Linked DNA regions of Homo sapiens: regions 1 and 3 are each reported to be linked to region 2. Evidence: microRNA targets listed by miRTarBase, many of them from high-throughput screens and not tested one by one. Region 2 holds a microRNA gene; each other region holds the end of a gene's coding sequence.
Evidence for each region. The annotated mature microRNA hsa-miR-3165 reads AGGUGGAUGCAAUGUGACCUCA and lies in region 2 at 2,717-2,738, opposite strand. An mRNA with a match to its seed (bases 2 to 7 or 8) in the 3' UTR can be bound and repressed. Matches are read on the target gene's strand: a 7mer-m8 pairs with bases 2 to 8, a 7mer-A1 pairs with bases 2 to 7 and ends in A, and an 8mer does both.

Region 1 (4,337 bases), not on the chromosome of region 2:
TGGTTACCAAGGCTGGCAATCCCTTCAGGCAGCCCAGCTCACTCTCACTTCTCTGATCTTAAATTTTTAGTCCCCGGGATTTTGTCTTTGAGTCATAATACATTATATTCTCAACACATCAAAGCAGTACTTAAGGTTTGAAGAGTTGTTTGTTCCTCCACAGGGCAGGCCTTAGCTCCAGGCTCCCTCCTCCTCCTCTGTGGCTTTCTCTCCTCGGGTTGCCCTTAACATTATTGCATGTGTGCATATTGTCACTGCCCCACATTTCCATATTTCTACATGTCCTTAAAGCACTGGAGCTGGAAAAAGGCATGATTAGAAAGTGAGTTGGTTTTTTTTGTTTTGTGTTGTTTTTTGAGAAGGAGTCTCACTCTGTCACGTAGGCTGGAAGTGGTGCCATCTCTGCTCACTGCAAGCTCCGCCTCCTGGGTTCAAGCAATTCTCATGCCTCAGCCTCCCGAGTAGCTGGAATTACAGGCGTGTGCCACATGCCTGGCTAATTTTTGTATTTTTAGTACAGACGGGGTTTCACCATGTTGGCCAGGCTGGTCTTGAACTCCTGACCTCAAGTGATCCGCCCACCTCGGCCTCCCAAAGTGCTAGGATTACAGGTGTGAGCCACTGCACCCAGCTGAAAGTGGTTTTTAAGTTAAATTTTAACAATGTTTTCTTTTTCTTCTATTGCTTTCAATAACCCCAAAATTCCCTGGGCTCCTACAGGAACAATGACACTGCCATTGAAATAGACAACTGCAGCAGCTACAAGATACCCTCTCCAGTGGCATCTCCAATCAATTTGAATATACCCATGAGAGCTGCCTTGAGCCACAGCCTCTGGGAACAAGAGGACTGGAATGAGCACCTTCTACAAGTTCATATAGCCAGTTACCTAGGAGAGCACTTCTTGGGAGCCTGACACCTAGGCAAAACATGCTCTTCCTTGCATACGTGTACTTGCTACCACCTCTTATAATGCTCCTTTTCCACTGTGAGCCAAGTGACCTTGGGAGAGGTAAGATGGTGTTTCCAACAAGGTGCTTCTCTACTTCCACCAATAAACTTCCAAGTGAGTCCCTAATTTTTGCAGGTTGGGCTATAGGGAGGCTCCAGTTTGGGAAAGGACTGACTGAGAACAGGAGCAGTTTTTGGAAAAATAGGTGGGAAAAGTTACTGTCTGTGTGTACAGAGAACTACCTGAGACTGGGTAATTTTATTTATTTATTTATTTATTTATTTATTTATTTTGGAGATAGAGTCTTGCTCTGTCTCCAGGCTGGAGTACAGTGGTGCGATCATGGCTCACTGCAACCTCCACCTCCTGGGTTCAAGCAATTCTCCAGCCTCAGCCTCCCAAGTAGCTGGGACTACAGGCACACACTACACCTGGCTAAGTTTTTATATTTTAGTAGAGATGGGGTTTCACCACGTTGCCCAGGCTGGTCTCCAGCTCCTGAGCTCAGGCCATCCAGTCACATTGGCCTCTCAAAGGGTTAGGATTACAGGCGTGAGCCACCAGGCCCAGCCTCGAGTCTGGGTAATTTATAAAGAAAAGAGGTTTAATTGGCTCATGGTTCCCCAGGCTGTACAGGAAGCATGACTGGGGAGGCCTCAGGAAACTTACAATCAAGGCAGAAGGCAAAAGAGAAGCAGACCTGTCCTACGAGTCTGGAGCAGGAGAAAGAAAGAAGTGGGAGGTGCTATGCACTTTTAAACAACCAAATCTCGTGAGAACTCACTATCATGAGAACAGCAAGGAGGAAATCCACCCCCATGATCCAATCACCTCCCACCAGGCACCTCCTCCAACACTGGGGATTAAATTCAACATGAGATTTGGGCAGGGAGACAGATCCAAATCATATATCAGTCTGCTCAGTTGAAACCACACAATAGCCAAGCAAAGCCAAGAAAGCCAGTCCAAGGCTGGCTTGGAAAGGGCCTCTGAGGAGAAATCAACTTTCAAAGGGGCAGGGGGAAATAGAGGTTGAGCTACTGCAAGCCCAAAATAAAAGAAATCCTGAGAAGGATGGTAACCAGCTGGAAGATTCCTTTGTGTTGCTCCACTATATCAAGCAAGAAATTGAGTCTTTGGCTGGGCGCGGTGGCTCTTGCCTGTAATCCCAGCACTTTGGGAGGCTAAGGTGTGCAGATCACTTGAGGTCAGGACTTCGAGACCAGCCTGGCCAACATGGCAAAGCCCTGTCTCTACCCAAAATACAAAAATTAGCTGGATGTGGTGGTGCACACCTGTAGTCCCAGCTACTCAGGAGGTTGAGGCAGGAGAATTGCTTGAACCAGGAGGCAGAGCTTGCAGTGAGCTGGGATCATGCCACTGTGCTCCAGCCTGGGTGACAGAGCCAGACTCCATCTCAAAAAAAAAAAAAAAAAAAAAAAGAATAAATTAGGTCTTCATTGCCCTGTGTTAGTGTAAAGCTATGAAGGCTCCCCTGGCTCATACAACATTTCATTGCTAATGAAAACATGGTGAGGAAGATATTGACTGCCCATCACCAGAAATTCTGATTAATTTGACTGTTTCTTACCCAGAACCTAATGAAAGTGAACTGGAAGACATGGCATCTTTGAGTATTGGGAATGGGGTAGGAGCTTTGGCCAACCTTTATACACATAGGGAATACTTACAAGGAAAATACCATGACTCCTTTTTTTTTTTTTTTGAGACAGTCTTGTTCTGTTGCCTAGGCTGGAGTGCAGTGGTGTGATCTCAGCTCACTGCAACCTCCACCTCTCAGGTTCAAGCGATTCTTGTGCCTCAGCCTCCCAAGTAGCTGGGATTACAGGTGTGAACCACCAGTCCGGCTAATTTTTGTATTTTTAGCAGACACAGGGTTTCTCCATGTTGGCCAGGCTGGTTTTGATCTCCTGACCTCAGGTTATCCACCCTCCTCGGCCTCCCAAAGTGCTGGGATTACAGGCATGAGCCACCACGCCCAGCCCCACCACGCCCACTCCAATATTTAATAAGTATTTGTCAGGCTCCTGCTAGGTGCTAGACACTGCGTTTGACGCTAAGTATATTGGAGAGAACAAGACAGACGGACAAGTTACCTGCCTTGAGGGAGGGTCTGGGAGAGATGCCAAGTCCTATTTTGGAGACATAGTGAAGCCATTAATGTTGACCTGATGTCTGAGCCACCCAGTCTGCAAATGAAAGCTGGAGGCCCTGCTTTCCAGCATGTGTGGTTCACATCCTATGTGGTGCAGAAAGAAAGAACATGGTTGCCCTCCTCTTGTGCATGCTCAGTTGGGCTGAGCAGTCAAATCTGGCTGAATTGAGTCAGAAAAGACATCTGAGTTAAGAGGATGCCTGATGCTTGTTGGTTTTGTCTTGCCTCCAGTAAAATTAAAAACAAGTTTCCTTTCAGTATGTTACAATCAAATAAGCTGAGCATTGTTGGTGCTGGTGAGGGACATCTAGAAGCTGAACTTAGAAAAGACTAATGTGCAGGGTGATTGTACTTCCAAATGCATGCCTGTTGTCCTGGTATCATTATTAATACATACCCATTTCACTCTGAGAAGTGTCCCTCAGTGAATCACAAATCATGTGGCCATCCTATCTATATGGCATACTTATAAACATTGAAAGGCTTGTCATCCCCACTTCTTTGTCTTGGTTTAAGCCTTCATCAGCCCTCACCTAGACTATTGTATTAATAGTAACCCCAGGCCAGGCATGGTGGCTCAGGCCTGTAATCCCAGCACTTTGGGAGGCTGAGGCGGGCAGATCACGAGGTCAGAAGTTTGAGACCAGCCTGGCCAATATGGTGAAACCCCATCTCTACTAAAAATACAAAAATTAGCTGGGCATGGTGGCGCACACCTGTAGTCCCAGCTACTCGGGAGGCTGAGACAGAAGAATCTCTTGAACCTGGGAGGTGGAGGTTACAGTGAGCAGAGATGGCGCCACCGCACTCCAGCCTGGGCGACAGAGCCAGATTCCGTCTCAAAATAAAATAAAGTAAAATAGTAACCCCAATTGGTCTCCCAGACTTTATCATCATCATCATCATAATAGCTAACATCTTTAGAAATTTGCTATCTTCTAAGCACTATGCTGACTTTACAAAGATCACATAAACCACACCACAAGCCATTGAGAAGTAGATCTTATTATTACATTTTATAAATGATAAACCGGAGCCACAGAGAGGTTCAAGAACTTGCTTAAGGTCACACAGGTAGTAAGTAGCAGAGCCAGGACTTGAAGCCAGTCTGTCTAACTCCAAAATCCAAATTACTCTTGATGCCTCTCCAATGTCTTCCCAACTCATTCCCTTTTCATACCTCTAACAGAGCAACTTTTTGACACATAA
Region 2 (4,337 bases):
GCCTCAATGGCCAATGTTTAGTGTCTGGCTCACAAGAGTTCTGGGCAATCTACCTCAGAGCAAGGGCCAATGAAAACCTCTGGACACCACCCTCCCACAGTTAGAAAAATATCTTTATTAAACCTCTCTGCTCTCCTCCTACAGTAACCTGTTTGCCTCAAATAATTGAAAGACAAAGACAATCACTTTGAAGAATCTGGGTCAGGGAAAAAGTAAATGGTAGAGATCCTGCTCAGGACAAAGCTGACCTATGAAAAACTAGAGGGCAGAAACCATTTTGACTTACCTCCTGGTGGAAGCCTCCACACACTAGAACAGGGTGATCTCCAGCAGTCTGGCTTAGAATTAGTTTCCACCTAGGGAAGGGGCAAAGGGACAGGAATGATTATTCATTCCCCTAACCCACCCACTCTTAGTGAGCTCAGCCTCACATTATCCTGGGCAACCCCAGCGTTCTGTGGATCAGACAGCAAGCAGAAGGGAAGCCATGCAGGCCAGGTCAACGGGGTGAGTCAGTGGCAGAGCAGGAAGAGTCACTGGGGCAGAAATTCTGGCCTTCTGTGGCAAGACTGCCAAGCCACACCCACACTTGGTCAGCACTGTGAAGGCCCTGCCCTGTTAGGATTTCAGTCTTTAAGCCAGAAAACTTCTTCCTCAGGAGGCCCCACACCACTCTCATTTTCAAGTGTCTCTCCTCCTGCTCAAAAATCTTCCAGTTTTCTTCTCCCTAAAGCATCATATCTAAATTCTTTGGCTTAACTTTCCAAATCCTCCATTATATGGCCTCAAGTCATTTATTCAACCTTATTTCCCACTATTCTACAGAATATACTCTGAATTGATCAAGCCAGTCTTCCCACTTCTCTCTGCGTGAGCCAAGCCTTTTCTCATTTCCCTGCTTTCAATTATCCAGGAGTGGTAAATTCAAACATCTTCAGGGGTCAGGCAGGTAACAGAAACAAATTATCCAGGCAAGGCCCAGTGGCTCACAGCGGTAATCCCAGCACTTTGGGAAGCCAAGGTGGGCAGATCGCTTGAGCTCAGGAGTTCCAGACCAACCTGGGCAACATAGTAAAACTCCGTCTCTACAAAAATACAAAAAATTAGCTAGGTGTGGTGGAGTGTGCCTGGGTCCCACCCACTTGGGAGGCTGCAGTGAGCTGAGACCGTGCCACTGGACTCCAGCCTGGGCAACAGAGCGAAACCACGTATCCAAACAAAACAAAATGAATGATCCAGTGGGGCACATGGCAGATCTAGGAAACGCTGCACCCCCCTAAAGGCATTCAAATATTTTAATTCAAATATTTATGTAGTGTCTCACTGTGAGCATCACGATAACCTTTTAAATAGTTATTAATACTCTATCTTGCAAATGAGAAAACTTCCCCAAGGTTAGGTAACTGGCAAAATGCTGGGCACAGTCTCTAGACCTGTCTGATGCCAAAGCAAGAGCTCTACACCATTAGGCTTCTAGCAGTGCAAACACCATGGAAGATACAGAACCCTCAAAGTCACTTTTCATGATACACAACCTTAATAGTAGGATGGGAAGCCCAAATCACAGCTTATCTAACCATATCCCAACTGCCTCCAATTCTGTTCATTTTCCAAACCCCATCTTTCTGCCAAAGTATTTCATTCCTAGTTATCCAAGTCCTACTGAATTCCTTCTTCTGTAAATTCCTATAGGGTTTATAGATTAGACAACACAAATAAGTGCTAAATTATATACTGTCTTGCAAAATCAGATACTGCTTCTATGTATTTTAGTGTCAGCCTCATCAATCAAACTATTGTATTAATCTATATAGTTCTTCTACCAAAAATGCCTAACCTGAATCTAATCAAGAAGAATCAGACAAATGCTATGAAAGACAAAAAGGCATTCAGATTAAAAAAGAACTGTTCAAAGTTAAAGCAGACTAAAGACATGATAGTCATGACAACTAAGTGCATAAATACATGCATGATCCTTCAATGAATCCTGAATTTTAAAAAACTCAATAAAAGACATCACTGGGAAAAGATGAGAAATCTGAACAAGTATTATATACTGGATGTATTGAATCAATGTTAAGTTTCCTGAGTGTTAATAGTACTGTAGTTATATAGGAAGATACCTTTTTCTTAGGAAATACTTGCTGAAATAGGGATTAAATAACATGATATTTACATCTAACAGTCAAAAAGATTCAGAAAATGAAGGATAAATAGACAGCAAATTTGGCAAAATGTTAATAGTGACTCTAAATGAGAAGTATATAAGTATTTGTTACATTATTTTGCAAAATATCTATAGGTTTGAAAATTTTCAAAATAAAATAATTTAGTAAGGAGGGAAATCCTGTATTATATACTTTTTTATATACTCAGCTCTGTGACAGATATAATAGGCACTCATTACTTTAGGTATCTGCTCACTACCTAAGGAAACTGGGCATTTGGAGGTCAGCAATCAGACAGAGTCCACTTTGCTGCAGCTCATGAGGGGTATAGTAGGAAATTCTTAGGGAATAAGAGGTTTCTCCAAAACTCACATTGTCACACCACAGGAAATCTAGAAAAGCAGGCAATTACCTCACTCCTCATTGAGGCCATCACAGAAGTACAGGCACTGAACAAATGCCCACTCGCTAGGCAGAATGCAGCTGCTGCCCACACGTTAGTACCCAGTGGTAAGGTGGATACAATGTGACCTCAGAGGACCAAGAGTTGAGGTCACATTGCATCCACCTTGCCACCGGGTACCAAAAATTTGACAATCTGCAAAACAAGTGTCTCTGGCCAGTCACAGGAAGGCACTCAAGTATCAAATAAACATGCCTGAAATATATGCAGTCTTTCCTCCTCACCAGATAAACCAGTCCTCAGCTGCAATAAGGCAGAAGAAATCTGCAAGGCTGAATCACTGGTATTTCCTGTGCAGACTTCAAAGAAACTGGCCCTTCAATAGGACAGAAAGGGCAGGCGACACAGCTGCCAACAGAGGCCTCAACCCAGGAGCATGCTATGCAATAATGCCTTCTCTCCCTTCTACAGCCATCAGATACCTCATTTTTACTTCTGCCAAATGGCCCCTTATTACCGCGACTGATTACCTAATAGCCAACCCTTTACCTTGGTTCTCTCCTCCCCTCAATGAGACCCAAGATACTGGCCTTTCTAGACAGCTCCTCCTCCAATTTGCCAGAGGAATTGTCAAAACTATTCCCCTGGCCAGGCACGGTGGCTCACGCCTGTAATCCCAGCACTTTGGGAGGCCAAGGCGGGCGGATCACACTGTCAGGAGATAGAGACCACGGTGAAACCCCGTCTCTACTAAAGATACAAAAAATTAGCTGGGCGCGGTGGCGGGTGCCTGTAGTCCCAGCTACTCGGGAGGGGAGGCTGAGGCAGGAGAATGGCGTGAACCTGGGAGGCGGAGCTTGCAGTGAGCCGAGATCGCGCCACTGCACTCAAGCCTGGGTGACACAGAGCGAGACTCCGTCTCAAAAAAAAAAAAAAAAAAAAGCTGCCTAGGCCAGGCACAATGGCTTACACCCATAAACCTAGCACTTTGCGAGGCCGAGGCAGGAGGATTGCTTGAGCTCAGGTGTTCAAGACTAGCCTGAGCAACACAGCAAGACCTTGTCTCTACTAAAAATCAAAAAAATTAGCCGGGTGTAGTCCCAGCTACACTACTTAGGAGGCTGAGGTGGGAAGACAGCCACTGCACTCCAGCCTGGGTGACAGAGCGAGACCCTGTCTCAAAAAAAAAAAAAAAAAAGTTGCCCACAGTAGGAGGTAGAGGAGAGGCCATTATTAAGCACACTCTCAGTAAACCATGAATCTGACAGAGCTACCCAAAACATCAATGCAGTCTTAAGCTGCATTAGTAGAAGATGACTCTATGCCCCACCTTTGAAGAGCAAAGTTAGAGGACTTGCAGAGGAAGAACACCAATGACCATGGCAAAGGGTCTAGAAGTATATCATTTCAAATATGGAGGAAGAACTACACACTTTTAGCCAGGGGAGAACAAGAAAACTTTTTTCAAATATACGCATAGCTTTCACATAGATGAGGAGAAAGACTTATGAGTCCACTATAAGAATACAAAACCAGAACTAATGAGTGGAAGTTACAGGAAGACTGATTTTGGTTTGCCACAGGGAAGAAATTTCAGCATGTTGTAGAAGTTCAGAATGTGGGATGTAGAACCCAGAATGCTTGGATTAGGATGTCAACTCCACCACTTATAAACTGTGTGGCTTTGGGGAGATTAATCTACCTGTGCCTCAGTTGCCTTCCCTGTAAAAGAGAATAGTAATAATAGAACTTAGCTCACAGAGCTT
Region 3 (4,000 bases), not on the chromosome of region 2:
TCCCTGACTCACCAGGAGCTTAGGCCCAGCTGGGACAGGAAGGAGAGTCAAGGGTGGGGCAGTCTGGGGCCCTACCACTGGAGGCTCCCACCTCCTGCCTCCAGCTAGCTGAGCTTGGTCCCTCCCTGACCAAGATAGATGGAAAGGGAATGGGGGGTGGAGGTGGGGAGGGCTCCTGTTTTTTAAGATCCCCAAGGAAGCATGCTTGCTCAAAGGCAAGAAGTGGGAAGTCATACCCCTCGCTCTCAAGGAATACCTCTTATTTGCTCGTGGTGTAATAAAAGGCCTGCACTTGTATCCTAGTGCTCCTGTTCACCTGATGTGTGTCCTTGGGCAAGTTACAGCCCCTCACAGGGTCTCGGTTTCCTCATCTCAAATATAAGTCAGGTAATTCCCCACCTACCACCCTCACAGGGCAGTTTGTGAGATTCAATGAAACAAAGTGTGTAAAAGCATTTGAACAAACTGGCAGGTGCTGTCCAGATGAAGGACACAAGGAACTACTAAGCACACTGTGTGACCAACAGTGTGAGCACCAAGCTCAAACCAGCACCAGCCATGGCACCCATGCTAGGGCAAGGGAACAGCCAGTTGCGAAGCTTCTGGGCTAACCAGCAGATTGCCCCACTTTCCTTTGTAAAATCTCCCTTGGATTTTACTTCACACTCCCACAGCTGCTCCCAGGGGGCCCCCAGTGCTCCATCCCCCACTGGGAGGGTTGAAGGCGTGGACTGGGTGGGGGACTACTGGAGGAAACTCAGTTGGAGAAGTGCGGGAAGTGCTCACTCAACTGAGTCAGGCTCTACCCCAGTGAGCGACACCAATCTGGCCTGAACCAACCCTGATGAGAGACCCCCAGCCCAGGCCGGGCCCCACTCTGGGCAGGCAGTCAAGCAGCAGAGGCTCCATCTGATCCAGGCACTTCCTTTGGTTAATGAGAAACCAAATAAACAGCCTCTGCCCCAGCTGGCTCCAGGAGCACCCCAGCCAGGCCCAGCCCTACACTAGCCCAACCTTCCTTCCCTCCGCCTGCAGGCCCTGTGGCTTTCCGCCCCCTTTCTTCTCCACCAGCTCCCCACTTCCCTCATAGCCCGGGTGGCACCTTGGCTAATTCTCTGGGGCTTCCTACTCTGGATCACTCTCTCTCTCCTTCTTCTTCCTCTTTCCTCTGCTGCCTTCTACCCCATTTTTAGCTGCTGGATCTCACTTGTCCTCTTCCCCTGACATCTGTCTTAGCCGTCTCCACAGGGAGTCCCCCCACAAGACCAGCAGGCGGCTCCAGGCTGGAGCAGGAAGGCTCCAGGCCCTGCCAGTCTGCCTCTCCGCTGTGGGATGGAGGCCAAACCCTCTTCAGGGCCCTCACCACACTCTTTGACTTGAGCAAGTTACTCATCAGCCTGTGGGAGGTAGACCGGGTGCTCAAGGCTGCTCTAGCTTGAGGGTATCGACTGCTGGCCAGAAGCCCCCAACTATGCCATGGTGGTGGCTGTGGTGTGGCCCAGCTCAGAAGCAAGATTCTTCTGGCTGAGAGGTGAACTGGGCAGCCTGAAGCAGGCCCAATACCCAGTAGGCTGCAGCTGAAGTTCAGATCTTGGGAAGTTATTTCTATCCACCTCCAGGCGTCCTGAGGCAGGGCAGGGCTGGGCCTGCCAGCAGGTCCCAGATCTAGCCCCAGCTAGGTGGTGGCAGTACTTTGTGGACACACCCAGGTCCCCATGGGAACATCCCCTCCTCCATTAACCCTCTCTAACTGGGCCTGTGCCAGACTGGGCAGATGCCCGTGGCCTATGCCACAGAGGTGACAGGATGAACAGGGGAAATGGTCTCAGGCTCCATGACAGCAGAACAAGAGAGCAGAAAAACCTGGGGTGAGGGGAGTGGCAGGAGGGTCATAGGGCATTAAAACATCTTGCTCCACTAGGATAGCCATCATCTGCCCGTACCTGCCCCAGTCACCAGTGGTTTGAGCACAGGAAAGCGCACACACACACACCCCCACCACACACGCACGCACACAACTCTCACTCTCCATTTCCCAACATCACGACACCATTTTACACCCATTTCTCCATGTGGTTAATTTTTTTTTTTTAGTTCTCATTTTTTTCTAAGAAAAAAGCAACAAGAAAATAATTCAGAGTTTATACAAAACATCTTTACATTATTTTTTTTCCAAAAAGACTAGTATTTACACAAATGGCAACAGAAACAAAAACAAAAACCCTTCCGACTGCCACCTGGAAGGGGCTGGCTGTTCTGCTCCCTCTCCCACCTGGCACTGGGGTGGGCAGCTGGCCAGGAGGCAGTGTGGAGGTGGATGGTGTGAGGGCCAGCTCCTTCCATGGCTGCTCTGGGAGTGCCTGCAAGGCGCACTCAAGTGGCAGTCTGTTAGCAGCCGTGCTGGCAAGGAACTGGGGTCAAAGTGCACAGCGGGCTGGCCCAGCCCCAGGCAGCCTCTTCCTCTTTCCAGGCCCCAGCCCAAGACTGGGACAGCAGCAGGAGCTGGGTTGGGTGGGGGTTACCCACCTGTGCTAGGGCCCAGAAAAGGAGCAGGCCACCTGGTCTTATACCCGCTTAGGTCTCCACCCTGGGCCTCTGTTTCCCCACCAGGCCAAAGGATGCCAAAGGTAAGGAGAGAACAGGGTGGGGGGTGGGGGTGAAACTCCCAGCTCTGCAGGGCAAATAGCCACCTGGGCACCTCACCTCCCTCCACCCCCCATGAGGTCATCTGCCTGCAGCAGCTCTCCTGTTCCCCAGGCAACAGCCAATTAAGACATTAATTACCGTGAGAGTGAGGGAGGCAGGAGATGCCCAAGAATCCCACAAGGAAGGGATTTTTTTTTGTGTGTGTGTGTGTGTGTGTGTGTGTGGAAGGGTGGCAGTGACTACCCCATTGCCAGGATAAGCCTCGTAGGAGGGTCAGGAGGGGAGGGTGGGACACCTTGCCCAGTGGCACTTTCCTCTTCCCTCATGGGCGTGAACAGCCCTGGCCTGCCCCTTACCCCACCAGAAATACCAAGGAATCTATAAAAGAAATGGCATCCTATGCTTCCTGGCTGACCACATCGTGCCCCAGGCCCTCTTGTACTGGCTTGGGCCAGGCTCACAAAGCCTGGGGAGGGGCTGCCTTTTACATTTTTCCATTTTTCTTCAAAAAACAGATGAAAATGAGTTGACAGCTAAAAAATGAACACAAAAGCATTAAAAACAGTGATGATAGCGGACAAGCAGTCCTGGGAAGGTGGCAAGGGGGGCGAGGGAGGGGCAGGGCCAGGGGACTGTCTCCCTGCCTGCTGTCCATCAGTGTCCAGCCCTGCCTTCCAAGAAGGGGCGCCCCCACGGAGCCCAGAGGCCTGGCCAGAGGGGGAAGGCACAAGAGCATGGGGGTTAGGGGCACAAGCACCCCCCTCCGAAGCCCAGGGGGCAGGGAAAAAGGGGGATTATAAAAGCCAAGAAACTACAAAACTAAATACAAAGGTGGGCACAGCTGGCAAGGGGAGGGGGTGTGGGGGCGAAAGGAGAGGTCCGGTCCAGGCCGACTGTCCCTCGGGGGCCTGAGGCCGTGCCGGGCACTCAGACCTTGTAGTAGATGTTCGCCGGGCTCTGGGGCGGCATCTCTTGGACGATGTAGACAGGGTGCCCGTAGTCCCCACTCACCTTCTCATAGTGGGGGCAGTAGTTGTTCTCTGTAGTCCGTAAGGGAATGATGATGTCGCTGGGCTCGGTGCCCGCTGTGCCACTGCCCCCCTTGGGACTGGCCAGGGTACTGAGCGAGAGGGCAGCCGCCCGCTGCTGTGTGTGCTTGCGGTGCCGCTTGCGTAGCTTCAGTAGTAGGACCGTCAGGAAGATGATGATGAGCAGGAAGATGACGCAACCGGCACCGACAGCCGCGAACAATGCCACCTTGGAGTTGAAGAAGCCATCAGGGTCCCCGCTGCTGCCCCCACTTGCACCTGGGCCACTCTTCTCTTCCTGGTTCACAGTCTCTGAGGAAGGGAAA

Region 1: the mRNA of GARIN1A is a reported target of hsa-miR-3165. Seed matches in the 3' UTR shown: 7mer-A1 at 1,048-1,054, 7mer-m8 at 1,761-1,767 and 7mer-m8 at 2,897-2,903.
Region 3: the mRNA of EFNB1 is a reported target of hsa-miR-3165. Seed matches in the 3' UTR shown: 7mer-m8 at 2,313-2,319.

The regions. Positions count from the first base shown.
Region 1 is chr7:128,682,244-128,686,580 of GRCh38, forward strand. GARIN1A (golgi associated RAB2 interactor 1A) reads left to right here. Exons shown (of 5, transcript NM_001128926.4): 5 at 721-4,337. The coding sequence ends at 916. Among named protein-coding and RNA genes, the nearest start is that of GARIN1A, 12 kb to the left of the region's middle.
Region 2 is chr11:72,069,556-72,073,892 of GRCh38, forward strand. MIR3165 (microRNA 3165) reads right to left here and starts at 2,747; the gene lies at 2,673-2,747. NUMA1 (nuclear mitotic apparatus protein 1) reads right to left here. Exons shown (of 27, transcript NM_006185.4): 2 at 287-356.
Region 3 is chrX:68,840,228-68,844,227 of GRCh38, reverse strand. EFNB1 (ephrin B1) reads right to left here. Exons shown (of 5, transcript NM_004429.5): 5 at 2,068-3,986. The coding sequence ends at 3,574. Among named protein-coding and RNA genes, the nearest start is that of EFNB1, 13 kb to the right of the region's middle.